Linked DNA regions of Homo sapiens. The protein of the gene in region 7 purifies or fractionates together with the protein of the main gene of each other region. This does not show direct contact. Each region holds a gene or a part of one and is shown on either strand. Other genes may lie near its edges.

Region 1 (3,500 bases), on a different chromosome or scaffold from region 7:
CTGAGAGTCCCTCCTCTTCAGGACTCCAGAGTAGCCAGTGACAGAAAATAAATCCCAGAACCAGGGGGCCCTGAAAGCAGCTGTCAGTCCACTCTCCCCCACAAAGGGAACTTCTGTTTCAAGATTGGGGTCAACATCTAGTGTATTTGTCCTCACAACTGATGTTGATTGCCACCTTCACCCATGTGTAAATGGAAGCATTCTTACAGGGCCCCAGGCCCCTTAGCGCCTGACCAATCAGAGTCAGCCTGGAACCAGGGAAGCAAGGGGAAGAGACAGGTGAAGCACTGCATGATGGGAAGGCTGGAAAGATACAGAATCTTCCCGTGGCCCAGGAAGCAGTGGGAAGCCACCTTCCTCCACCACGTGGACTGAGGAGGGCAGGCCAGTCTCCAGAGAAGGGAAAATCAAGACAGTGCACAGAGCAGAGGGAAATGAGGCATGTGGGCCCTGAGTCCTGATGCCTTTTTGGGTGCAGTCTACCCAGACCCAGGTACTCCCGCCTTTGGGTTCCATGAGGCAATCTCTGGAATCCTTACAGTAAATCCCTGACTTCACTGAAGCCAGCTTCAGCTGCCTGAAGTGTCCAACTATTCTGGGAGAGGGTCCCTTATCAACTCAGACTCAAAACCTACAGACTAGACTGTCTCTTTAACCCCAGCCCTGCTTGACTGTGTCAGGTGGGAGACCAAAATGACTTCAGTGACTGCTCTCATCCGGGTAGTTCTGTGCAAACAAACCTGGGTGTTCCCTCGAGCAAGTGCAATTCTCTTAAAATCCTGGAGACTCCCCAAGATGTGGTGGGGCAGGATCTGGTCACTGCCATCGAAGCTGTCACCGGGACCTGGGAGGATAAAAGAAGAAAGGGGAAAGAAGCTGTGGGTGGACAACTTTCAAGAGGGCAACTTTCTGATGGAGACTGGGTTTCTCTTGAGGCTGACCCATGAGTTGAAAGACAGTGAAGCCAGGGCTGAGACTGGGTGTACCGGAGTAGTCCAGAGGCTTTGTGGCTTCATCAGGATTCGCAGGACGTGCTACAAGGTGGCAGACCTTCCTCCTAGGATCCATGGGTTTGAGTTTACGGATGATAAATTTCTGGGTGATGACACGTTTATCTTCCTTTTCAGTAAGGCGAGGAATGTGTTGCTAAAAAGAAATAAAACAAAGGAGAATTCCACCTGTGGTGGCAGGAGGAAGAGCACCACCCATCTCTTCTGTTCTAGTTCTGGGTGGAGTTCCTGAAGGCTGACAGATCTGTTTCTTCAGCTCTGTCCATATGTTCTGTCAAGGAAATGCCTGTGTAACAGATATGTGACTTAGTAATATCCTGGAGGGAAAAAAAAGAACATCTTATGCCTCCAGACAGTTTGGGTGAGAGATGGCTGACTCTCCCAGGTAAAGCATGGGGTTAGGGTTTAGCAGCTTTACCCAGAGCTGTACCTTGGCTCCTTAAACTCATCCTCCGGTCTGTGAAATGGGAATGATGGCACCTACCTCTATGGGAAGCAAGATACCTCATCATCTCATTTCCCCTGTGGTTCTATATGAATCTCAGAAATGTTAAAACAGACAACACAGTGAATTCCTTAAGGTGGTAAAGTGAAAAGAATCTGTGTTCAGTGGGTTTTTCCATGGAGTTAGACACTCCCCATGAGTAGGGACATGGCTGGTGTTCTAGACCACTCAGGCTGCCGGCAGGGAAACGTTTCTATGGTAAGGGAAGCTTGGGCTTCATCCTCACCTCCTTCAAGTCTTCCTTCTTAATGGCCAAGGCAAGAATGTCATCTCCTTGTAGGACATTGCTAACAGGTTCAGGCTCTTCCTGAATTGTGGGTGTGGGTTGTTCAGGTCCCTTTGCCCGCTTCTTTTCTGAAGAGAAGCAGAAAGTTATTAAGTCCTTAAAGAGCTCCTTCTGTATATATCAATATATACATACAAAAATAAAAGTAAAAATATATACTAGACTCCATGGTGGGGGGCAGAGCTGACCAGCTGGATAGATAGCAGAGGCTGCCAAGGTGGCCTGGGTAGCACTTTGCTGGGGCAATGGGAGTTCTCTCTGGAGGGTCCCCCTACCCACAGCCCCTGGCTCACCACAGTGACTAAGACTTCTGTAGCCAGAATTGAGATCAGAAGATGTTTCGTTTCAGGCCAGGTGTGGTGGCTCATGCCTGTAATCCCAGCACTTTAGGAGGCTGACACAGGAGGATCACTTGAGGCCAGGAGTTCAAGACCAACCTGGCCAACATGGTGAAACCCCGTCCCTACTAAAAATACAAAAATTAGCCAGGTGTGGTGGCCCATGCCTGCAGTCCCAGCTACTCGGGCGGCTGAGGCAGGAGAATCACTTGAGCCCGGGAGGTAGAGGTTGCAGTGAGCTGAGATCGTGTGACTGCACTCTAACCTGGGCAACAGAGTGAGACTCTGTCTCAAAAACAAAACAAAACAAAACAAAAAGATGTTTCATTCCGGGTGCCGTGGTGCAAGCTTGTAATCCCAACACTTTGAGAAGCCAAGGCAGGAGGATTGCTTGGGCCCAGGAGTTCAAGACTAGCCTGGGCAACATAGTTGAGACTCCATCTGTACAAAAAAGATTATTTTTAATATACAAAAAAGATGTTCCATTTCAGGCTATGCTATTTATAAGCTGGACAGTCTTGGGTACGCATCACTTAACCTCTCTAGGCCTCAGGCTTTCCATGTGTAGAAAGAGTCAGTTGGACTAAATCAGTGGTTCCCAAGTTATTAGTCCAATGTCTGCCTCAGAATCTTTGGGGGAGTTTTATGAATACAGCTTCCTGACTACTGCATGGAGCCAGGGCCTAGGGAGCTGTACTTTTTTCAACTCCCTAGGTGATTCTGATGCACAGTGGTTTGGGACAACTGAACTAGATGTTTTGCCAGCCTCCTCCAGTGCTGGCACTGATCCATGCTTCTGGGTGAAGGCACAGGGTTTCACAAGACACTGGTTAAAGTGCAGAATCTCTGTGGGGGAAGCAGAGCATTCACCACTGGCCATTTATTGCATATTCATTTAATAAAGATTGTTTAAGCAGCTTCTACATGCCAGGCACTGTGCTAGGTTCTAGGGATACATGCCAGAGCTTGTCTTTAAAGAGCACATGCCCAATGGGAAACAAGACCGTGAAACAGACTGAGCCAGAGTAACTACAGGAACATGGTGGGGGGGAACAACCAGCCCTGAGTCGGCGGGCGTGGGAGGTGGGGGAGTCAGGGAGGGCTTCCTAAGGAAGGGATGTTTAAATAGAGCTGAAGAAGCTGGAGAAAGGAAAGGGCCCTGGGGAACAGGCATTCCAAAGAAAATAACATAAAGAGGCATAGTGGCAAAGAATGGAGCACATCCCTGGAACTCAAAGCATGTGTTTTTGAATAGCTGGAGTGTGGTGAGGTGGGAGGGAAGAGGCAGAGCCCAGAGACAGCAGCAGCCGCCATATCGTGAAGAGCTCAGTGAGCCATGTGAAGGCTTACCCCATGGGCAA
Region 2 (2,981 bases), on a different chromosome or scaffold from region 7:
CTCAGGTGATCCGCCCACCTTGGCTCTCAAAGTGCTGGGATTACAGACGTGAGCCACCGTGCCCGGCCTATGGTTGTTTCAAGAATCAGATTCTGGCAGGGCATGGTGGCTCATGCCTGTAATCCCAGCACTTTGGGAGGCCGAGATGGGCGGATCACTTGAGGCCAGGAGTTCGAGACCAGCCTGGCCAACATGGCGAAACCCCGTCTCTACTAAAAATATAAAAAATTAACCAGCTGTGATGGCATGTGCCTGTGGTCCCAGCTACTCTGGAGGCTGAAGTGGGAGAATCACTTGAACCCGGGAGGCAGCGGTTGCAGTCAGCTGAGATCGTGCCACTGCACTCCAGCCTGGGCAATGAAGCAAAACTCTGTCTCAAAAAAATAATAGTAACAATTAGATTCTGCGCACAGTCCATAAAACTATGCCAAGTGGAATTTGGGTTTCCAGAGCCATTCTATCCTTACTGTTTTAGTCCATATAACCTTATGTATTATTTGTGTTTTTTGTTTTTGAGATGGTCTTACTCTGTCACCCAGCCTGGAGTTCTGTGGCACAGTCATAGCTCATAATAGCCTCAAACTTCTGGGCTCAAGCAACCCACCCACCTCAGCCTCCCAAACAGCTTGAACTACAGGTGTGAGTAACCATGCCCAGCTATTTTTTTCTTTTTTGTAGAGAGTGGGACTAACTATGTTGCCCAGGCTTGTCCAGAACTCCTGGCCTCAAGCAATCCTCCTGACTTGGCCTCCCAAAGCAGTGGGATTACAGGCATGAGCCACCACACCCAGCCCTTACATATTCTTAAAACAAAATACTAATAACAACAAACAAAAGTCCTGGATCCCTCAAACCAAGTTAGGACCTAAAGATAAGAAGACACAAGACCAACGAAAGGCCTGTAATCAGCTCAGTATTAACCATCCAGTAGGCAGGACAGGAACTCTCAATATAGGAAACTCTTTTCTGGTGCTGTATCCTTTATCCACTATTACTGGCTACACGCTTAAAGCAAGAAACTCCTGGGCAAACAATGTGAGGATAAGCAGATGCTCTGTTGCCACGGGCCACCTCAGCCACCTCTCACCTCTGTGGTCAATGTCATCAGTATCGCTGTCTGCTTCCTCATCCTCTTCATCCAAGGTTCCTCGAGTCAGGATCAAATCAGAAGGGTGCAGCACAGGAGATAAGCTGTCTACAGTGAAAACACCTATCAGTGATATGCCTCCTCAAAAAGGTGATCTTGAATCACTAAGTAACTATGATCATAAACTGGCAGGATGAAAGTGCTCATGATACATATAAACGCAGGATCTTACCTCTTCTAAATGTATTGTTAATACCACTTAACATTTCTATAATAGCTTAGTTCACAAAGTGCTTTCATAAGGCAAATAGCCCTAGGAGTCCCATTTTTTTAAGCTGAGGGAAATAATTTTCAAGAAGCTTGTCTTACTAGTAGCATCATTCTTTTTTACTGGCTCACAGCTTGGAAGGGGTGATGGTTTTTCCTATGAAAGCTAACAACATTTGAGCAGATCCAGTGTGCTGGTGAGTCACAGTGAAAGTGTGGAGTGCTAAGGAAGCCTCCTGGTGGAAATGTAAGTTCAGAGAAGGTCTGCAGAAAATACAGGGTGAAATGTTATCAAGGAGCCAGGGTATTATTTAAGAAGAGGAGGGAGGGGAAAAATAGAAAATCAAATACACTAATAGAAGTAAAATTCCCTATTCAGAAAAACTAGTGAGGGCTGAGCTCCAGTAATCAGAGAGAAGTCTAATCAAGTCACTACTGCCATGGGAGGACATAGTCACTCTCTCTTCAGGAGCCTATGAGGCTTGCGAGAGCTCAGCTAGGGAATAAGGGTGGCCAGAGACAGCAACATCAACTGGCACAAATCTCAAGGGGCCTGTGGGCCTGAAAAAGGAGGATGACAGGACATGCTGACAGTAAATGCTTCATTCTGTGCCTAACAATTATGCAACTATACTTGTGACTTTCCTCAAATGATTTACTTAAACTCTCCCAACCTTCAACAGGTTAGCTGACTACAGCAGACCCTTTGCAGCAGTAGTTTTAACATTGACTTCACATATTCAGAAGTGATTCTAAAGGACTGTGGCACATAGAAATGTATTTTGCTGAGCTGTACAACAGGATGGCACAAGTGAGTACACTTAACTGGTAAACCCAGTCCGTTACTAGCTTTGCTGTTCTCTACTAGATATAGAGCAATAACTTTCATGAACAGAAGCATCACTCCTTTAAGAAAGATGTCCCAGAAAAAAAAAATGCTAGTGTTGCTGATGAGAAGAAAAAATAAATGTACAATTTATTACAATAAATAAATAAATGGAGCTTTTCTTTTAAGTACAGTCAATTTGGTTGCAGGATTCCACTAAGCTGCAATAGACTTGCATCTGAATCTTGAGGGCAGTCCCTCAATATACAGGGGTGGGGGTGGAAGGTGGGCTGTAAATGAAAACTAACCTAAAAACCCCTGCAGAGCCAATGATAAAACTAAAAAAAAATTTTTAATTCAGTAAAGTAGCAGGATAAAAGATGAATATACAGAAATCAAAAGCCTTCATACATACAAACATAAACCAGTTATAAGATGTAACGGTCCAGAAAATCCCATTTTCAACAGTAATGAAGAAGGTTAAATACTTAGAATAAATTTCAAGCTGGGGCTGGGCATGGTGGCTCATGCCTGTAATCCCAGCACTTTGGGAGGCTGAAATGGGCAGATCACCTGAGGTCAGGAGTTCAAGACCAGCCTGGCCAACATGGCAAAACCCTGTCTCTACTAAAAATGCAAAAATTAGCTGGGCGTGGTGGCATGTGCCTGTAGTCCCAGCTACACAGGAGGCTGAGGCACAACAATCGCTTGAACCCGGGAGGCGGAGGTTGCAGTGAGCCGAGATCGCGCCATTGCACTCCAGCCTAGGTGACAGAGCAAGACTCTGCCTCAAAAATAAAT
Region 3 (3,500 bases), on a different chromosome or scaffold from region 7:
ACCACATATTGGGAGAAGGGTGGGCATCTTGGTCCTGGAGACCCCAGGGGGCCATGTGGGGCCCGGGCAGGAGGGGGTCGGAGTGCTGGTTTGGGGACTGTCAACACTCACTCCTCGCTGCTGCTGCTCCAGCTTCTGCTGCTGGACCTGCTTGTGGTTGGTGATGACCTGCCGGATGCCGTTGACGAAGCCGCTCTGGTCGTAGGGGATGAGGCCCATGAAGATCTTCTTCTTGGACGAGTACAGGAGCATGAGCACGCGCACCTCACAGGGCGCCGTGTGGGGGAAGTGCACGCAGCCCGCCTGGGTGGACAACAGCTCTTCAGAACCATTCAGGCCCTGAAAGAGGCAGCCCTGACCCCCTCCCCATTCCAGAAGGCTCTAGAGGCCCCACAGGCAAGGTGAGGTGAGGTTTCTGCTATAGAAGGTTAAGGAGAACAGGTGTGCTATGGGTTGCTCTGGAGACAGAAACTGAGGCGCTCAGGGCAAGCTAGGGTTCCAGCTGCCCACTGAGAGGGAAAGCGGAGAGAAAGTGCTGGAGCCCAGCTCTTCAACCTTCAGCCACCACCTGCTCCTCATGGACCCAGTTTCTTGGGCATAAAATGCCACGGCGGCCTCCTCAGAGGGCGGCTGAGGGTCACGGCCGGGAGAGCGGCCTAGATGCACAGCGTGGTACCCACAGGCCTGTGATCAACGGTGGGTCGGACCCCGGGTATCCAAGAGATCCTCCAGCCCTCAGCACCGGCCAGTGTACACCACGGGGAGTGCTCCCACATCACAGGGTCGCTGTGACTATGCGATGTCTGATCCACAGCAAGAGCCCTGCCTGAGGCTCAGCCCACAGGAAGCACCCAGGAAACATCACTGGTCATCAGGGGGGTAACACATGGAGCATTCAGGGCAGGGGCTCCTGAGGGAGGCGAGGCTGACCTTGGCCAAGTGAATTGACTTCTCTGAGCCTCGGTTTCCTGCCTGAGACAGACCCTGCTAGCTGCCTATTCCATATCCAAGTGTCCTCCTCCCCTGCATTCCCAATGCTGTCTGGGGCTGTAACATGTCCCAGCCCCAGACAGTCACGGATACCTGCTCCCAGCAGCCTCCCATCAACTAGGGGCTGCCCAGTGGCCTAGGTCCGGGATAGGAGGTGAAAGGAATGCCTGCTCTGGAATCTGAGAAAGTTTCTGCTGTCTTGAAGAAAGGGAAACACACAGCCCCCTTCCCCTCCTTCATGAAAGCACACAGGATGCGTGGAGCCATGAGAGCTACCTTGTGACTATAAAGGAGAGGCCAAGAGAACCACAGGGCCCTGTCCCTGATGTCACAGACCTATGAAACCAATCCCAATAGCTGGCCCCCTCTAGATGTCCTGTCCTGTGCAAAATATAAATGCCTGCTCCTACAACGCCTGCCCTCTCAGAACCCAGCTGCCACAGTGTGGCCACGTGGACAGGCCATGTGCAGACACTGGGATGGCCGGTCCTAGCCAAGCCCCAGCCAACAGCCAGGGCTGTGTGAGGAGCTGTTTTGAACATCCAGCCCAGTAAAGGTTTCAGATGACCAGAGTCTCAGCTGCCATCTGATGGCAACCCCGTGAGAGTCGCCAAGCGAGATGGCCCACTGAGCCCAGGTGACCCACAGAATCATAAGAGAACATTTTTTCCGAGTGCCCCCAATTATCTATGTGTTTGGGAAACTACGTGATTTGCAGCCGGAAGTACTAACTCTCAGGAATGCCTTCTTCACAAGGTTCTGTGAGGGTCTCGTGAGGTGATCCCCCTAAGGTTCTCTTTCCTGCAGGAGTGCCTGGTGCACGGAAGTAACTGATCTGCTCCTTCCCCGAGTTACAAAGTGTGAACTGTGACTCCCAGAAAGCTATGCTGAGGCTGGGCGCGGTGGCTCACACCGGTAATCCTAGCACTTTGGGAGGCCGAGGCAGGCAGATCACTTGAGGTCAGAAGTTCGAGACCAACCTGGCCAACATGGTGAAACCCTGTCTCTACTAAAAAATACAGAAATTAGCTGGGCATAGTGGCACATGCCTGTAATCCCAGCTACTTGGGAGGCTGAGGCAGGAGAATCGCTTGAACCCAGGAGACGGAAGTTGCTGTGAGCCAAGATTGCACCACTGCACTCCAGCCTGGCTGACAACAGTGAAACTCTGTCTCAAAAAACAAAACCAGAAAGCTAAGCTGAGGTTCCAGTCCCCAGCACCTGTGAAGGTGACTCTATCTGGAAAGAGGGTCTTTGCAATTGTAGTAAGATGAGGTCAGGAAAATGGGGCCTAATCCAAAATTACTGATGTCCTTATAAGCACAGACACAAAGATACAGAGAGAATGCCATGTGGAGACACACACAGAGGGAAGACAGCTGCGGGATGGAGGAAGACCCTGGAGCGATGCCACCTGAAGCCTGGGGTTACCGGCCGGAAGAGGCAACGAAGAGGCCTTCCCTCCAGCCTCTAGAGAGAGCGTGGCCCTGCTGACACCCTGACCTTGGGCTTCTGGCCTCCAGAACTGGGATAGAACACGTTTCTGTTGTTTTAAGCCCCTCTGCTTGTGGTAATGTGTTACCACAGCCACAGGAAATGAACACATCCCATAAAGCCATGCCAGAATCAACAGCTTCCTCCTAACTGATCCTGTCACATCCAGCTCACATTTTTAATGTGGAATATCCCTCAAATCTGGTGCATACGATGATTATAATAAAAGTCACGGCTCTAGAAGAAAGGCGAGGAACCTAAGGGCATGAAGTGCACCCAACCATCAAAAACGGCTTCCGTGGGCCCAGGCACTCTGGGATTCCCGTCAAAGGTCAGCAGAAAGCAGGACAAGAGTCAACACCCCTCGGCCCCCCATGCCCTGGACTCACGAAGCCGTTGCCCATGATGCGGTAGAGGCCTTTGAGAGACTCCAGGTCCTTGTTGGTGAAATGGAACTGGACCATCCTTGAGTTCCGGAACAAAGGGCCCAGGGTGGTCTGCGGGAGACACAGAAGTCGGCTGGCATGCTGGTGTGGGCAAGTGAGGCGGGGACATGAGGCAGGGAGTGGGGGTGGGGCAGGGAACAGGAAAGAGACAGCAGGGTGAGGACTGCCCGGCAGCAGGGCTGGCCCTCCACCGCCACTCACCAGCAGCTGCTGGGGGATGAGCTGCATGATCAGCTTCTGGGGCCACTGCTCCGTCTTCCTGGGGGCGATGCCAGGAGAGGTGTGAGGAGGGGGCCAGCCCCAGCCCCACCACACCCCGCCCCTGACTGTCACCTACAGGTTCTCGCCATGATTCACGTAGACCTGGCAGGGCAGTGACCGCGTCAGCTTGGTGTTGGCATCCACTGAGGCAGGTTTGGGTTTCTGAGGGGGAAAAAAGAGCATGTCAGTAAAAAGGGCCATAAGCCTCAGTCCCCTTGAGCCCTCATGTCCTACCCTGGTAGCCCCAAAGCTCAGGATGTTCCCCAGTTTAAGTCCCATGAGCCCCAGGCCCCTCCTCCAGACCAGCAA
Region 4 (3,500 bases), on a different chromosome or scaffold from region 7:
GAGGTTTCATCATGTTGGCCAGACTGGTCTCAAACCCCTGACCTCAAGTGATCCACCCGCCTCAGCCTCCCTAGGTGCAGGGATTACAGGTGTGAGCCACCATGCCCAGCCATCAAGGCTCATCCTCACCAAGTTAGCTTTCAATTGCTACAACATCTTTTTTTTTTTTTTTTTTTTTTGAGATGGAGTCTCACTCTGTCGCCCAGGCTGGAGTGCAATGGTGCGATCTCCACTCACTGCAATTTCTGCTTCCTGGATTTAAGCAATTCTCCTGCCTCAGCCTTCCGAGTAGCTGGGACTACAGGCATGCGTCACCACGCCCGGCTAATTTTTATATTTTTAGTAGAGACGAGGTTTCGTCATGTTAGCCAGGCTGGTCTTGAACTCCTGACCTCAGGTGATCCACCCACCTCGGCCTCCCAAAGTGATGGGATTACAGGCGAGAGCTACGGCGCCCGGCTGCTACAGCATCGTAACAGAGGCAAAGGCGCCCCCTAGAATGCAATGCAACTGCATCTGGAACATGAAAAGGTATACTCCTCACCATAAACTGATACTCTTGGTGTATGCATCTGCTCTTATGGGTTTTGTTGGTATGAATCAGTCTTGCCAAATCTGCTGAGTAACCAGATAGACTGTACCTCTTACTTTCAAAGCTGAAGACCAGATAGAGAATGCCCACACCAAGGCACACCCATCTTGGGAAGTCCTGTTATGGGGCCATTTATTTATTTATTTATTTATTTTGGTGAGGCAGAGTCTTGCTCTGTCACTTAGGTTGGAGTACGGTGGCACAATCTTGGCTTACTGCAACCTCTGTCTCCCGCATTCAAGTGATTCTCCTGCCTCAGCCACCCAAGTAGCTGGGTTTACAGGCGTGTGCCACTACACCCAGCTGATTTTTTGTATTTTCAGTACAGAGGCGGTTTTGCCATGTTGGCCGGGCTGGTCTAGAACTCCTGGCCTCAGGTCATCTACCCCCCATTGGATTTCCAAAGTGCTGGGATTACCCAGTTACTTTTATTTAGTCATATGCCCCATCCTAGTGTCTTCAAAGTATCAAATAAAACATATTATCAAGTGTCTGAGTAGAAATTAGGGAGATGTTTAAAAGTAAGTCACATTAGTGAAGAATGTGCCCATGTGCAGCATACTGTTTATGATTAACACCCACTTGATCATGGTCATCTGACAACCAGCACAACAAATCTAAAACAAGGGTTGTCATTAGAAATTTTTAAAAACCTAAAAATCAAAAACAAGAGTTGTCATATGAAATGAAGTTATTCTGCATGAAAAACCATGTGAGAAGACTTGCAACCAACTTCCTACACTGGGATAACAAATAGCTCAGGAAAGCTTAAAGAGAGGTTTAGTGCACAGAGTCCCTCTACTTTAGAGACCTCAGGGAACCTGGCCACAGCCAACATGAAGCTAATATCAGAATATCTGAACACTAAAGTAAGTAGGATGCTCAAATAAATGTTTGAATTATCAGAATGGTGCCTTAGCTTTTCCATTCTGAAATTATGAATTATCTTCCTTGACGTGAAACAACCAGAAACAAAAAATGTTAAGGTTTGTTTTTGAGATGGAGTCTCACTCTGTCGCCCAGGCTGGAGTGCAGTAGCACTATCTCAGCTCATTGCAGTGTCTGCCTCCCAGGTTTCAAGCGATTCTCCTGCCTGAGCCTCCTGAGTAGCTGGGATTACAGGCACCCGCCACCACACCTGGCTAATTTATGTATTTCTAGTACAGATGGATGTGATTTTGTCACGTTGGCCAGGCTGGTCTCCAACTTCTAATCTCAAGTGATCTGCCCACCTCAGCCTCCCAGAGTGTTAGGATTACAGGCGTGAGCCACTGTACCCGGCCACTTTTTTTTTTTTAAATAAAGGTAGGATTTCACTTCTATTTCTTTTCTTTTCTTTTTTTTTAGACGGAGACTCGCACTGTCGCCCAGGCTGGAGTGCAGTGGTGGGATCTCGGCTAACTGCAAGCTCCACCTCCCGGGTTCACGCCATTCTCCTGCCTCAGCCTCCCGAGTAGCTGGGACTACAGGCGCCCACCACCACACCCAGCTAATTTTTTGTATTTTTAGTAGAGACAGGGTTTCACTGGGATTTCACTTCTATTTCTAACATTCTTCCTCATAGTACCAGGCATCTATTGCCTGAGACTTCTTTTTTTTAAGAGAGAGGGTGTTATTTTTCATTAAATTTTCTTTACATTTGTCTATAATAACTAAGTCCAAGTGCTTACAATAAAATCATGATTACAAAAAGGGCATCATAAGAAATAATAAAAACTTCCTTTAAATTCCCGCTGGAGTCAGCTTGAATGAATACTAAAAAGCGAAGTCTGAGCATTTGCTGTTGTAGCCCCCAACATTCTTATCCAGCACCTGTGTGTGTGTTAAGGTGATTCCTCAGGAGGGTGACTGTTCTGAATGCCCTGCCACAGAGATGGCACTTGTGTGGTCTCTCATCAGTGTGGCTTTTCATGTGACGATCCAAATTTGAACGCCGTGGACACGTGTAACTGCAAAGCTCACACTGGAATGTCTTCTTTACACCTATGTGCAAAATAAAACACTTACTTGCTGCAGAGTTTCAAAGTGTTAAGATTAATCCTAATCTTAAATTTCTACAAATATATTTGATTAGCTTTTAATAACAAAACCCAATATAAGTCATAATTATCTCATGTCACTAATACATTTCCTTCTTCTTTGGGATTAAAAAAAGAGCATTCAATCTGGAAAAAACTTATTTTAGACTGGTTTTAAAGAACGGTACCCACATAACGACCTTTTACAAATACGGTTAATATAAAACAACTTGCATATGCACTGTGTTGTATGCTTATCCCAAAATGGTTTTATGAAACCACTATGGATAAACTCGTTTTACCTTTCTTTTTAATTTTTGTTGGCTTTGGAGGCTTCATATTACCAACCACTTTCTCTGCATTAACCTCTGATAGCAGACCCTCCTGCTGTTCTTCCTCAAAATCGTAGACAGACACATCTACATCTTTGCCCTCCTCTGTATAACGCAGTTTGCTCTTTTTGGTTTTCTTTGTTTTTTTGGCTGGTGGCTGATAGTCTGGGTCTTTTTGCCAACTAGGATCTTCCTGGGGTGGAAGTTCCCCTTGTTCTAGTGTCTCCACCTCTCCATTGGCCCCCACTTTAACCACCTGAAACCCTTCAGGCAAAGGTAGGGTGTGGCATATCATGGGTTCACTTTCCGCAAGGCCCTCTTTAGACACTTCATTTTCATAAGCCCCCTGAAGTTCTTCTACTGAAGTGGTAGCAACAGGTACAGTCACAGGAACAGGTACTTGAACAAGCTGAAGTTCTCCTATGTTTATGGGCTGTTCCTCCATATTTACAACCTGTAAAGTTATAATCTGGGTATCGTCCACAGCAGCCTCTGCTTCTGGAGCCACTGTGCCCTCCATTACTTCAGTCTTCATCTGAAGAAGGGTGGGGTCCAGCT
Region 5 (3,401 bases), on a different chromosome or scaffold from region 7:
CATTCTCCTGCCTCAGCCTCCTGAGTAGCTGGGACTACAGGCACCCGCCACCATGCTTGGCTAATTTTTTGAATTCTTAGTAGAGACGGGGTTTCACCATGTTAGCCAGGATGGTCTCGATCTCCTGACCTCGTGATCCACCCGCCTCGGCCCCCTAAAGTGCTGGGATTACAGGCGTGAGCCACTGAGCCCGGACGAAATGTTAATTTGTTTTTTTTGAGACGGAGTCTCACTCTGTCATCCAAGCTGGAGTGCAGTGGCATGATCTTGGCTTGTTGCAACCTCTGCCTCTCTGGTTCAAGTGATTTTCCTGCCTCAGCCTCCAGCATGACTGGGATTACAGGCCCGCACCACCATGCCCAGCTAATTTTTGTATTTTTTAATAGAGATGGGGTTTCACCATGTTGGCCAGGCTGGTCTTCAACTCCTGATCTCAAGTAATCTGCCTGCCTTGGCCTCCCAAAGTCCTGGGATTACAGGCATGAGCCACGGAGCCCAGCCTAGAAATGTTAATTTCTAACGCATGTCAGATTCCATGCACACTGGGCAAGGTTCCATTCCTCCATGGGGTGACTCAGGGATCCAGGCCAATTGCATATTGAGACTCTTTCATATTATCCTGTGGCCTTCAAAGTCGTCACCTCTAGGGATGAGAAACAAAAGGGACAAGCCAGCTGGTAGGGTCTTGGACAAGAAGAAAGACATCACTTCTGCTCACATTCTCTTTTGACAAAACTCAGTCACATGGTCCCAATATATCTTCGAGGTGGCTGAGTAATGTTATCTTCCTATGTGTCAAGCAGAGGAAATAATGTAGTGAAGACACAGGATGGTCTCTGAAATATCATCTCAGGCATGAAAGTAGAGCATATTCACTTGAGTGAGCCTCCAGTGGTGTGAAGTTGATGGCAGGAGAAAGAGCTGGGGAAGAAAAGGCCAGTGGCAGGTCTCCCCTCCTAGCCCTATGCAGCCCCACAGTGGGACCCTTGCATGGACCTCAACCATCAGAATCTTTTCTTTTGCAGGTCGTTACTCTCTGACCTATATCTACACTGGGCTGTCCAAGCATGTTGAAGACGTCCCCGCGTTTCAGGCCCTTGGCTCACTCAATGACCTCCAGTTCTTTAGATACAACAGTAAAGACAGGAAGTCTCAGCCCATGGGACTCTGGAGACAGGTGGAAGGAATGGAGGATTGGAAGCAGGACAGCCAACTTCAGAAGGCCAGGGAGGACATCTTTATGGAGACCCTGAAAGACATCGTGGAGTATTACAACGACAGTAACGGTCAGTGAATAACAGACCACAGGGGTGGAAGGTCTAACCCAAGAGGCAGCCCCCCCAGTGTGAGTGGCAAGGGATCAGCAGGATGGAAATAGTCCCAATCCCAGGGGAAGAACAGGAGACACAGCAGAAACACAGACATGTCCACATCCCACCCACCCCACAGCACAGGTGCTCCCCGCTTCCCCATCAATTGCCCCATCCTCATCCCAGGCCTCAGGTCACACAGGAAGTGATGGCAGAGTCACTTCCTATCCAGGCACCTATGACCTCTCACCTCCACACCCCACCCATCGGAGGCTGATACCCCCGTGAGAAGGCATCAGACTCACCCCTGTCCAGGGAGGTTGCCTGGAGAGTGAGCCACTCTCAAAGTCACTCAGACCTGGGCTCACCTGGTGGTTCTGCCAGTCCTAGCTGTTGACAGTGAAACGTTCCCAAAATATCTGGTTGAAATCTGCAAACATTGGAGCACTGAGACCTACCTCCAAACAAGTCTGTAATATTTAACTATGTCTGTTCTATGAAGGATGTCACAGTCTGTCCTGATCTCCCTTGCAGCTCCATCACCTAGCACAGGGTACAGCCAATATTGGCTCAATTGAAATTTGTGGAATCAACAGAGAAAAGCACCCAGCACACACCGTAGCCCATGCTGGGGGCTCAGGAAGTGCTGGATTCAAAACTGTGGGCTGTTAGAGTTCCTTGGAGCCCTAAAGTTCCTCCTTACCATACGATGCAGACCCAGGAAGGGCCACCTGCGCTATGGTCAGAGGAGCTGGTGGCAGAGCCCGTGCAGAGATGGTCCCTGTGCCCCCGGCCCAGTGCTCTTTCTCCTAAACCACACTGCCAGCCCCAAGGCAGCCAACCTCAGGTCTGGTGAACTGCTGGTGTTAAATTATCATAGAGTGGGTGTCAAAAGATGGGCTACTAAGTACAAAAATGCCCAAGGTGCTACATGGGATCTGAAGATTTTCAAAAGGAGGCAAGAAAGAGATAGGCAGATGTTTCAAGGATGTGGGGTGGGGGAGGTCTTGGTAAGGAAAATGGCCCAGGCTGTGTGTCAGCAATAGGAGAGGAGGGGGCACAGGTGATCAGAAAAGACACTGGGGGAAGCATTGATGGACAGGAATAGAAATGGCAAAGTGGATAATTAAGAGGAAGGAGGATGAGGAGATGAACACAGGGTATTAGAAAATAATAGAAGGCAGGGCTTGGTGGCTCACTCTTGTAATCCCAGCACTTTGGGAGGCTGAGGCAGGCAGATCACCTAAGGTCAGGAGTTCGAGACCAGCCCGGCCAACATGGTGAAACCCTGTCTCTACTAATAATACAAAAATAGCCTGGCATGGTGGCACACGTCTGTGGTCCCAGCTACTCAGGAGGCTGAGGCAGGAGAATTGCTTGAACCCAGGAGGCAGAGGTTACAGTGAGCCAAAATCCTACCATTGCACTACAGCCTGGGTGACAAGAGTGAAACGTTGTCTAAAAACAAAAAACAAAAAACAAAAAAAGGAAATAATAGTAGCTGACATTTACTGAGCACTTACTTTGTGCCAGGCCCATCTATGAGCATATATAATGCTCAGAATAGCCCCCTAAAACAGTGCTCTTGGCATTGCCATTTCAGAGGTGAGGAAATAGAGGCACAGGGAGTTGAGTGGCTCCAGTTCAGGCAACACACCAGGTGGGGGTGGGGGGCTGGGGAGAGACCTGGGACGTGAGCCCAGACAGCTTGAGAGCTTTCAGAGTCTATGCCAACAGCACCAACCAGTGCTGGGTAAACACCTGCTTTTATCATCAGAACAAAGAGGCTGTGTCCCCTGCCCTATGAGGTCCATTTCTGAGAGTTGTGGCTAATGGGCAAGAAGGTTGGGGCTTTAGAGATTTGGGATAAAGATATCAAACACCAGAAAGGTAGAAAGAAGTGATCAGATTAGGGTTACTTAGGTGATGATATGAACTCTTCCTAGAACTGAGAGAAAAAGAGAGCCTTCCTTTACTCATATGAAATCACAAATAATTTCTATCCAATTTGGAAGTACACTTTGGTGTAGTTGTGACAGCTTCCTCAGGACTCAGCATAAATTCAAACAAATAATTGTCCTTAGAAGAGAT
Region 6 (3,500 bases), on a different chromosome or scaffold from region 7:
CTTCTAGCTTGCATTTTAGTATAAATTTTCTAAGTTTCTGTCCTGCCAATACCTACCTCAGGGTTCTTGAGGGTCATCTCAATGCTGGCTGCAGGCCCAAATCCCGTGAGGGATTTAATGTGGATCTGTGTAGGCAGTGGTCGCCTGCACTGGCAGTACACTGAAAATGCCATGGACTTCAAGTATTGAATGTAGAAAACTTGCTCATCCTTCATTGTCTGCAGCATGTACTGGCAAGGCACAATCTAAAGACACAAATACAAAAAAAAAACAAAAACCAAAAACCTAGAAACTGAGATCTAACACACTAACAAGCAAGCTGAAAAAGGAAACGGCATGAATTCCTTACCACAATGGGGAGAGGTAACCTCAGCCTTAAAATATATCTGTGCCACACATAATATAATTAAATCCTAATTCCTTCCGCTGACATAAAATTCTCTATCACCAGCAATTTCAAAAGATGTACGATTATGTTGGTCAAGTTATACTGTCACTTAGAAACTACCATGTTCCCACTTTAGGGGTAAGATCTCAATTTATTACAGGTATTACCATGGCCCCAAAATTTTATTATATTTCTTTTTATAATTACACAGTGTGTATGGCATTTTTTGGAATTATTACCTAATCATTTAGGATACAGACTTCAAAACAATGGAAAACTATCAGCAATGTACTCTGATAACTTTAATTTCAATCTTTTAATTTTACAAGATAGCTTCAGTTAAAGTGACATTAAAACGAAACCCAAACATCCGAAGCATTGTTTTTCATCTATATAGAATTTTTTAAAAAATCATTACACTATAAAGCTGTCAAAGGTGCAGTGAAAATAAGCATACTCATTCACTGATGAAAGGAAATAAGTGTAACCTCTTTTGGAATGGAATTTGGCAATATTTGTCAGCATCTAAGAATCCATGTTAAAAATGACCTGAAATGTGAAAAATAAGATTATACATAAACGTGTCCTATGGCTTTATTTATAACAGTAAAGAAGTGGAGATATAGGAATGACTATGGAAAATATGCAGTCATTAAAAATGTTGCTTGTAAGAATTTAAATAATATGAAAATGTGTTAATGAATAACATTAGGTAGAAAATAAGTTATATTAAAAGTATGATCTCAACTGTGTAAACAAAAATAGAGAAACAAGCTAGAAATACACCAAAATGGTTATGGTGGTTGAATGTAAAAGACGGAATTATGACTATTTTTCTTTTATACTTTCATGTACAGGTTGAATATCCCTAATCAAAAAATCTGAAATCCAAAATGCACCAAAACCCAAAACTTTTGGAATGCCAATAAAACGCCACAAGTGGAAAATTCCGTTATCAGACCTCATGTGATGTATTGCAGTCAAAATTTAATCAAAACTTTGTATAAAGCACAACATGACCAAAAATATTGTATAAAATTACCTTCAGGTTATGTGTGTAAGGTGTATATGAAACATAAATAAATTTTATGTTTAGACTTGGGCCCACTGCAAAGGTCTCCCATTATATATATGCAAATATTCCAAAATCGGAAATCCAAAACACTCTGGTTCCTAGTATTTTGGTTAGGGGATAATTAACCTGTACTTCCATTTTTTAAGAAAAATCATAGGCCTGTATTTATTTTCATAACAACAAAAATAACAACATCAAAAGTAAATAATAAACTTGCAAACAGTAACCTGGAGAATGAAAGAATTTCTCATATGCTCAGGTAAATTATCCAGCATTTCTGTGTAGCAGCGCATCAAGCTCAACAGCCAAAAGTTCCCAGAAGTGGAGTCCTCCTCTGCAGCATACGTGAACGGGTCCACCATGTAAATGACAACAGCTGGAGGGTGGGCATGGCTGTCTGCAGAGTCAGGCTCCGTGGGAATTCCTATTCTCTCCCTTTCTGTAACACTGGAGAGAGAGTCACTTGTGAGATGCACAAAATAAATATAAATTACACGAACATGAAAAACAAAAGGGCTCAATTCTAGAGCACACAGGCTCCCTAAAGAATGTTTACAGATTAAAGGTAAGAGTAACATTTATCACCTTACCAAAATACAGGCAAACCAAGCCAGAGAGCATCGAGGGCAGATGGAAAATGGCAATGTACTCCTCTAAAATGGGAGGTATCTTTTTCAACTCCCCTTTCTTTTCTGTGGTTATGTTGTACAAAGTTGTTACTAATTAAGTTGATAGTAAGTAAGTTTAATAATAAAGTTTATAATTCATAATAATTTATAAGAAGTCTCAAATTTTTAACACTGCAGCTTTAGATCGACCATTGCCCCTTTCTTTTGAGAAGAGAAATAGAGCACTTCATAGGATTCACAGAATCATGAGGTCAAGGGAGAAAAGGTGCAGAAGAAGAAGAGAGAAAGGGTCTGAGCTGAAGCCACTCATCTCAATTAGTGAATAACATACCTCTCTTGTCCATCCTGTGAGGGCTGAGAAGAGCTCTGCCCAGGGTCAGTGTCTCCACCACAGCCTATGTTCCCTTGCGTTCTATCCGCAGAAATGCCCCCAGTGCTGGGGTTCTGCCCTCCAACACTACCACTGAATCCTGAAGAAGAGGTAGTGCTTATCTGGCTAATACCAGGAGCAGAGGCAGACGATGAGACCGGTGGCACAGAGGAACCAGATGCAGAACTACTTGCTGCAGGATTTGTAGAACTACTATTCGAGGTGGGATTAAATGCACTGCCAGCTGGGGGAGCTGCTGATCCATTTGGAGCTAAGGGCCCAGCATTCCCTGGCGTAGCTTGTCCCTGTGCTGCTGCTGGTGGGGTCTGGTATTTAGGTGGTATCAATAGGCTGCTATCAAGCTGCAGAGTGGCTAAATAAGGTGCTGAAAGAATACATGCAAAGAGGTGACTTTAGTGATATTCTGCAGTGTCGGACTGAACCAGAATCTAGAATGGTCACTTGTAAAAACATTATGCTTTCAGGCTGCAATACTCTGATTACAATACCCAAAATACTATCTCCACAGTCATGCTTATGTATTCTGCAAACATGGAGATGCACATGGAGCAACTTATAAATTCTACAGTAGAGGCTTGTTTGAAAAGAGAAAATCAATCACTTGTGATAGTCTCCTTTCAGACTGATTCCATGTGCCTGCCCTAAAAAATGAGAAGCTATATATTCCACAGTCATCATGGGACATTATGCTCCTAGGTTTACAAGCTTCTAAGATTCTCTTCAGAATATGGGTTAAAACTAAGCAGCTAATACCAAGTCATGCTGCTAAGTTTTCAAAATGTGCAGTAATTAGACATGATTAGGCAACTTTGAATAGTTTTTAAAAAATATATGTCCATATAGAAATTAGCATTAAACTGCCCAGAACACCAAACTGGACCTTAACAAATACAGCATTACTTGAGACAAAAGAAATATAATGTTGCATCTATAAAAGAAGGGATGGGACGGATTTGCTATTTTACTTCTCCAATTCTACTTTGCCAAATAAATTCCCATTTACCTAGGTGATGGCGG
Region 7 (3,500 bases):
TAATTTTTCAAAACAAATAGATGTCCCTCAGTATACCTAAAGGGTTGGTTCTGGGACCCCTGCATATACCAAAACCCACATATACTCAGGTCCTGCAGTTGGCCCTGGAGAACCCACCTATACAAAAAGTTGGCCCTCATATACGCAGGTTTCACAAATCTGCGTGTAAGTGGACCCACACAGTTCAAACTCCTGCTGTTCAACAGTCAACTGTACACAATTTATAACACCACATATGAACTTATTTGTCTAGCATATTAAGTTCAAAAATGTAGGACACTATATTTTATATACTTTAAAAAATAAAAATACTTAATTCATCAACACTGACATAGATTGCATTAAAAACCTTTCCATGGATCTACTCTTCCTATGTAAAACTCAGAGACATGCCTTTTCCATGCTCCTAAAACAGTAGCCATGAGAAAGTAGCTTAAGCCCAGGAGGCAGAGGTACAGTGAGCCAAGATCGTGCCACTGCACCCCAGCCTGGATAACACTTCTCAAAAAAAAAAAAAAAAAGTAAGTAACTTGTACTTCCTTTAACAAATGATTTATAGCTCATTTTTATGTGTTAATTATCACTGTCAGCTGGGTGCAGTGGCTGACGCTTGTAATCCCAGCACTTTGGGAGGCCGAGGTGGGCAGATCACCTGAGGTCAAGAGTTTGAGACCAGCCCGGCCAACATGATGAAACCCCGTTTCTACTAAAAAATACAAAATTAGCTAGGCATGGTGGCGCATTCCTGTAATCCCAGCTACTTGGGAGGCTGAGGCAGGAGAATCGCTTAAACCCGGGAGGCAGAGGTTGCGGTGAGCCAAGATCGTGCCATCACACAACAGCCTGGGCAAGAAGAGCGAAACTCCATCTCAAAAAAAAAAAAAAATTATTATTGTCTTAACATTTCACTTCCTTATTCTTAGCCAACCCCCCCATCTCCAGTCTTCAGATATTTCTATCTTATACATCACCATATTAGTAAACCATTCCAAGCCATTACTTCCAAAGGTAAACAGCTTCTAGGACTTTAACTTACAGACACATTAATAGGTACAAAATGCTGTGCTTACTAGGATATTCACTTCAGTGTTAGTACTAGCAAGACTGGAGACAGCCAATGATGTAAGTCAATACAATGAGATACAACAAAACTATTAAGAGAAACAAGGCATCTCTGTATATAGATATGTCATAATGTTTAAGCAATGTTTAAGATTTAAAATATGGGCCAAGCACTGTGGCTCACGCCTGTAATCCCAGCACTTTGGGAGGCTGAGGCAGATGGATCACTTGAGGTCAGGAGTTCGAGACCAGCCTGGCCAACATGGTGAACACTGTCTCTACTAAAAATACAAAAAATTAGCCAGGTATAGTGGTATATGCCTGTGGTCCCCGCTACTCAGGAGGCTGAGGCAGGAAAATTGCTTGAACCTGGGAGGTGGTGGTTGCAGTGAGCCAAGATCTTCCCACTGCACTCCAGCCTGGGTGACAGAGAAAGACTCCGTCTCAATAAATAAATTAAATAAATAAAAATAAAAATAAAAATAGGGCCAAGCATGATGGCTTATGCCTGTAACCCCAGCACTTTGGGAGGTCAAGGTAGGAGGATTACTTGAGGCCAGGAGTTCAAGACCAGACTGAGAGACATAGCAAGACCTCATCTCTACAAATAATTTAAAAAAAAAAAAAAAAGCTGGGCATGGCCCACATCTGTAGTCCCAGTTACTCAGGAGGCTGAGGTGAAACAATCGCTTGAGCCCAAGAGACAGACTTGCTTGAGCCCAGGCAGCCAAAGCTGCAGTGAGCCATGATCTAAAAATAGAAAAGTGTGCAGCACACTAGCATGTCATATTTAATGACATCTTTAAGTTAACACACATGCACATACCCCAAAAGAAAATCCTCTTAAAGGACAACCAAGAATGACTGCCCCTAAAAAAGGGAAAGAATGGCTGGGAAAGGGATGACTTACGTTACACTGGTGGTTTTTTGTTATTTTTGTTTTATTGAAACAGAGTCTCACTCTGTCACCCAGGCTGGAGTGCAGTGGTGCAATATTAGCTCACTGCAGCTTCCACCTCCCAGGTTCAAGCAATTATTGTGCCTTAGCCTCCCGAGTAGCTGGGATTACAGGTGTGTACTACCACGCCCGGCTAATTTTTTGTATTTTTAGTAGAGACGGAGTTTTCGCTGTTGGCAAGGCTGGCCTTGATCTCCTTGCCTCAAGTGATCTGCCCACCTCGGCCTCCCCAAAGAGCTGGGATTATAGGCATAAGCCACCGCGCCCAGCCACATTGTATATTTTTACGCACATATACTATTTACAAACTTTTTTTTATAATACCTTTTTTTTTTTTTAAGAGAGTCTCGTTCTGCTGCCCATGCTGAAGTGCAATGGCATCATCATAGCTCACTATAGCCTCAAACTCCTGGGCTCAAGCAATCCTCCCACCTCATCCGGCCATAAAATACTTTTTTGAAAAAGTAGTTAAATATCCTTGATTCCATTCATAAATTGATAGTTCTTCAAGTATTGGTTTGCTTTATCAAGCTATTTCAGCCTTAATATTTCTCCTGTAACTTGAAAAAAGACATAACAGTTTTCCTATTTATCCACACCCTGATTTAAACATTTTTATTGAAAGGTCACTTGATGGATCAGAGAATTATTTGTTGCTAAGCCACTCATCCAAAGACTCTAAACCTACACAGTCCAATGTGATAGCTACTAATTAGTTTCTAATCACACTAACTACATTCCAGTAATCGATACCTATGTGTGGCGTGTGGCTTGTGGCTAGCATATTGGACAGCACAGATGCTAAACATTTTCAGATCACTGCAGAAAGTTCTATTGGACATCACTGCTCTACACCAGGAGTCAACAAACTATAGCCTGCAGACTAAATTCAGCCAACTGCTTATTTGTATAAATAAAGGTCTACTGGAACACAGCCATCCTTATCCATACTGGTTTACGTATTATCTGTCGATGCTTTGGCACTACAATAGAGTTGAGTAATTGCACCAGAGACAGTAAAGCCCAAAAGGCCTAAAATATTTAGTATCTGCCAGAAAAAGTTTGCTGATCACTGCTCTAGATTATCAAATTTCATTGAAAAAGAACACATTAATTTCCCTTAGGCCTCAAAAAGTTTTTGAAGGCTTGCATTACAAAAATGACAAACCAGTTAAACATAAACAGATGTCTACTTCATTTACTAAGTGTTAAAGATACTTAATTTTTTACCATAAACCCATAAAACCAAAATTTGTCCTAAAATGTATTTAAATACTGGTATTTTCTAAGCATCTCTATAAAATAGCTAGTAAAAGCACAGAAGACAGATTACTAGTCTAGCAATTCTAAAAGAGCTGGCCTAAGAGAAAATATTTATTTCTCAAAAATATGCCTATTTTCCTTAGCAATATCTAATATCTGTTCAAAGAAATGGGGCCAGGCGTGGTGGCTCACACTTGTAATCCCGGCACTTTGGGAG

What was found.
Region 1: the proteins of CDK19 (region 7) and MYCBPAP purify together in Homo sapiens (affinity purification with mass spectrometry; one large-scale study listed by BioGRID and IntAct). This does not show direct contact.
Region 2: the proteins of CDK19 (region 7) and GPN1 fractionate together in Homo sapiens (co-fractionation; one large-scale study listed by BioGRID). This does not show direct contact.
Region 3: the proteins of CDK19 (region 7) and MED25 purify together in Homo sapiens (affinity purification with mass spectrometry; 2 studies listed by BioGRID and IntAct, with this or other methods). This does not show direct contact.
Region 4: the proteins of CDK19 (region 7) and CTCF fractionate together in Homo sapiens (co-fractionation; one large-scale study listed by BioGRID). This does not show direct contact.
Region 5: the proteins of CDK19 (region 7) and AZGP1 purify together in Homo sapiens (affinity purification with mass spectrometry; one large-scale study listed by BioGRID and IntAct). This does not show direct contact.
Region 6: the proteins of CDK19 (region 7) and MED13L purify together in Homo sapiens (affinity purification with mass spectrometry; 7 studies listed by BioGRID and IntAct, with this or other methods). This does not show direct contact.

The regions. Positions count from the first base shown.
Region 1 is NC_000017.11:50,514,939-50,518,438, reverse strand, and holds part of MYCBPAP (MYCBP-associated protein), read right to left. Parts: intron 1,870-3,500; coding exon 1,742-1,869; intron 1,147-1,741; coding exon 987-1,146; coding exon of another isoform or gene 942-986; intron 845-941; coding exon 741-844; intron 1-740. UniProt on the Homo sapiens protein: May play a role in spermatogenesis. May be involved in synaptic processes.
Region 2 is NC_000002.12:27,646,050-27,649,030, reverse strand, and holds part of GPN1 (GPN-loop GTPase 1), read right to left. Parts: intron 2,166-2,981; exon of another isoform or gene 2,038-2,165; intron 1,196-2,037; coding exon 1,088-1,195; intron 1-1,087. UniProt on the Homo sapiens protein: Small GTPase required for proper nuclear import of RNA polymerase II (RNAPII). May act at an RNAP assembly step prior to nuclear import.
Region 3 is NC_000019.10:49,831,789-49,835,288, reverse strand, and holds part of MED25 (mediator of RNA polymerase II transcription subunit 25), read right to left. Parts: intron 3,354-3,500; coding exon 3,268-3,353; exon of another isoform or gene 3,190-3,267; coding exon 3,132-3,189; intron 2,982-3,131; coding exon 2,874-2,981; intron 304-2,873; coding exon 112-303; intron 1-111. UniProt on the Homo sapiens protein: Component of the Mediator complex, a coactivator involved in the regulated transcription of nearly all RNA polymerase II-dependent genes.
Region 4 is NC_000016.10:67,611,026-67,614,525, reverse strand, and holds part of CTCF (transcriptional repressor CTCF), read right to left. Parts: coding exon 2,913-3,500; intron 2,576-2,912; coding exon 2,405-2,575; intron 1-2,404.
Region 5 is NC_000007.14:99,969,631-99,973,031, reverse strand, and holds part of AZGP1 (zinc-alpha-2-glycoprotein precursor), read left to right. Parts: intron 1-1,025; coding exon 1,026-1,286; intron 1,287-3,401. UniProt on the Homo sapiens protein: Stimulates lipid degradation in adipocytes and causes the extensive fat losses associated with some advanced cancers. May bind polyunsaturated fatty acids.
Region 6 is NC_000012.12:115,980,694-115,984,193, forward strand, and holds part of MED13L (mediator of RNA polymerase II transcription subunit 13-like), read right to left. Parts: coding exon 3,487-3,500; intron 2,848-3,486; coding exon 2,424-2,847; intron 1,911-2,423; coding exon 1,691-1,910; intron 246-1,690; coding exon 57-245; intron 1-56. UniProt on the Homo sapiens protein: Component of the Mediator complex, a coactivator involved in the regulated transcription of nearly all RNA polymerase II-dependent genes.
Region 7 is NC_000006.12:110,805,470-110,808,969, forward strand, and holds part of CDK19 (cyclin-dependent kinase 19), read right to left. Parts: intron 1-3,500.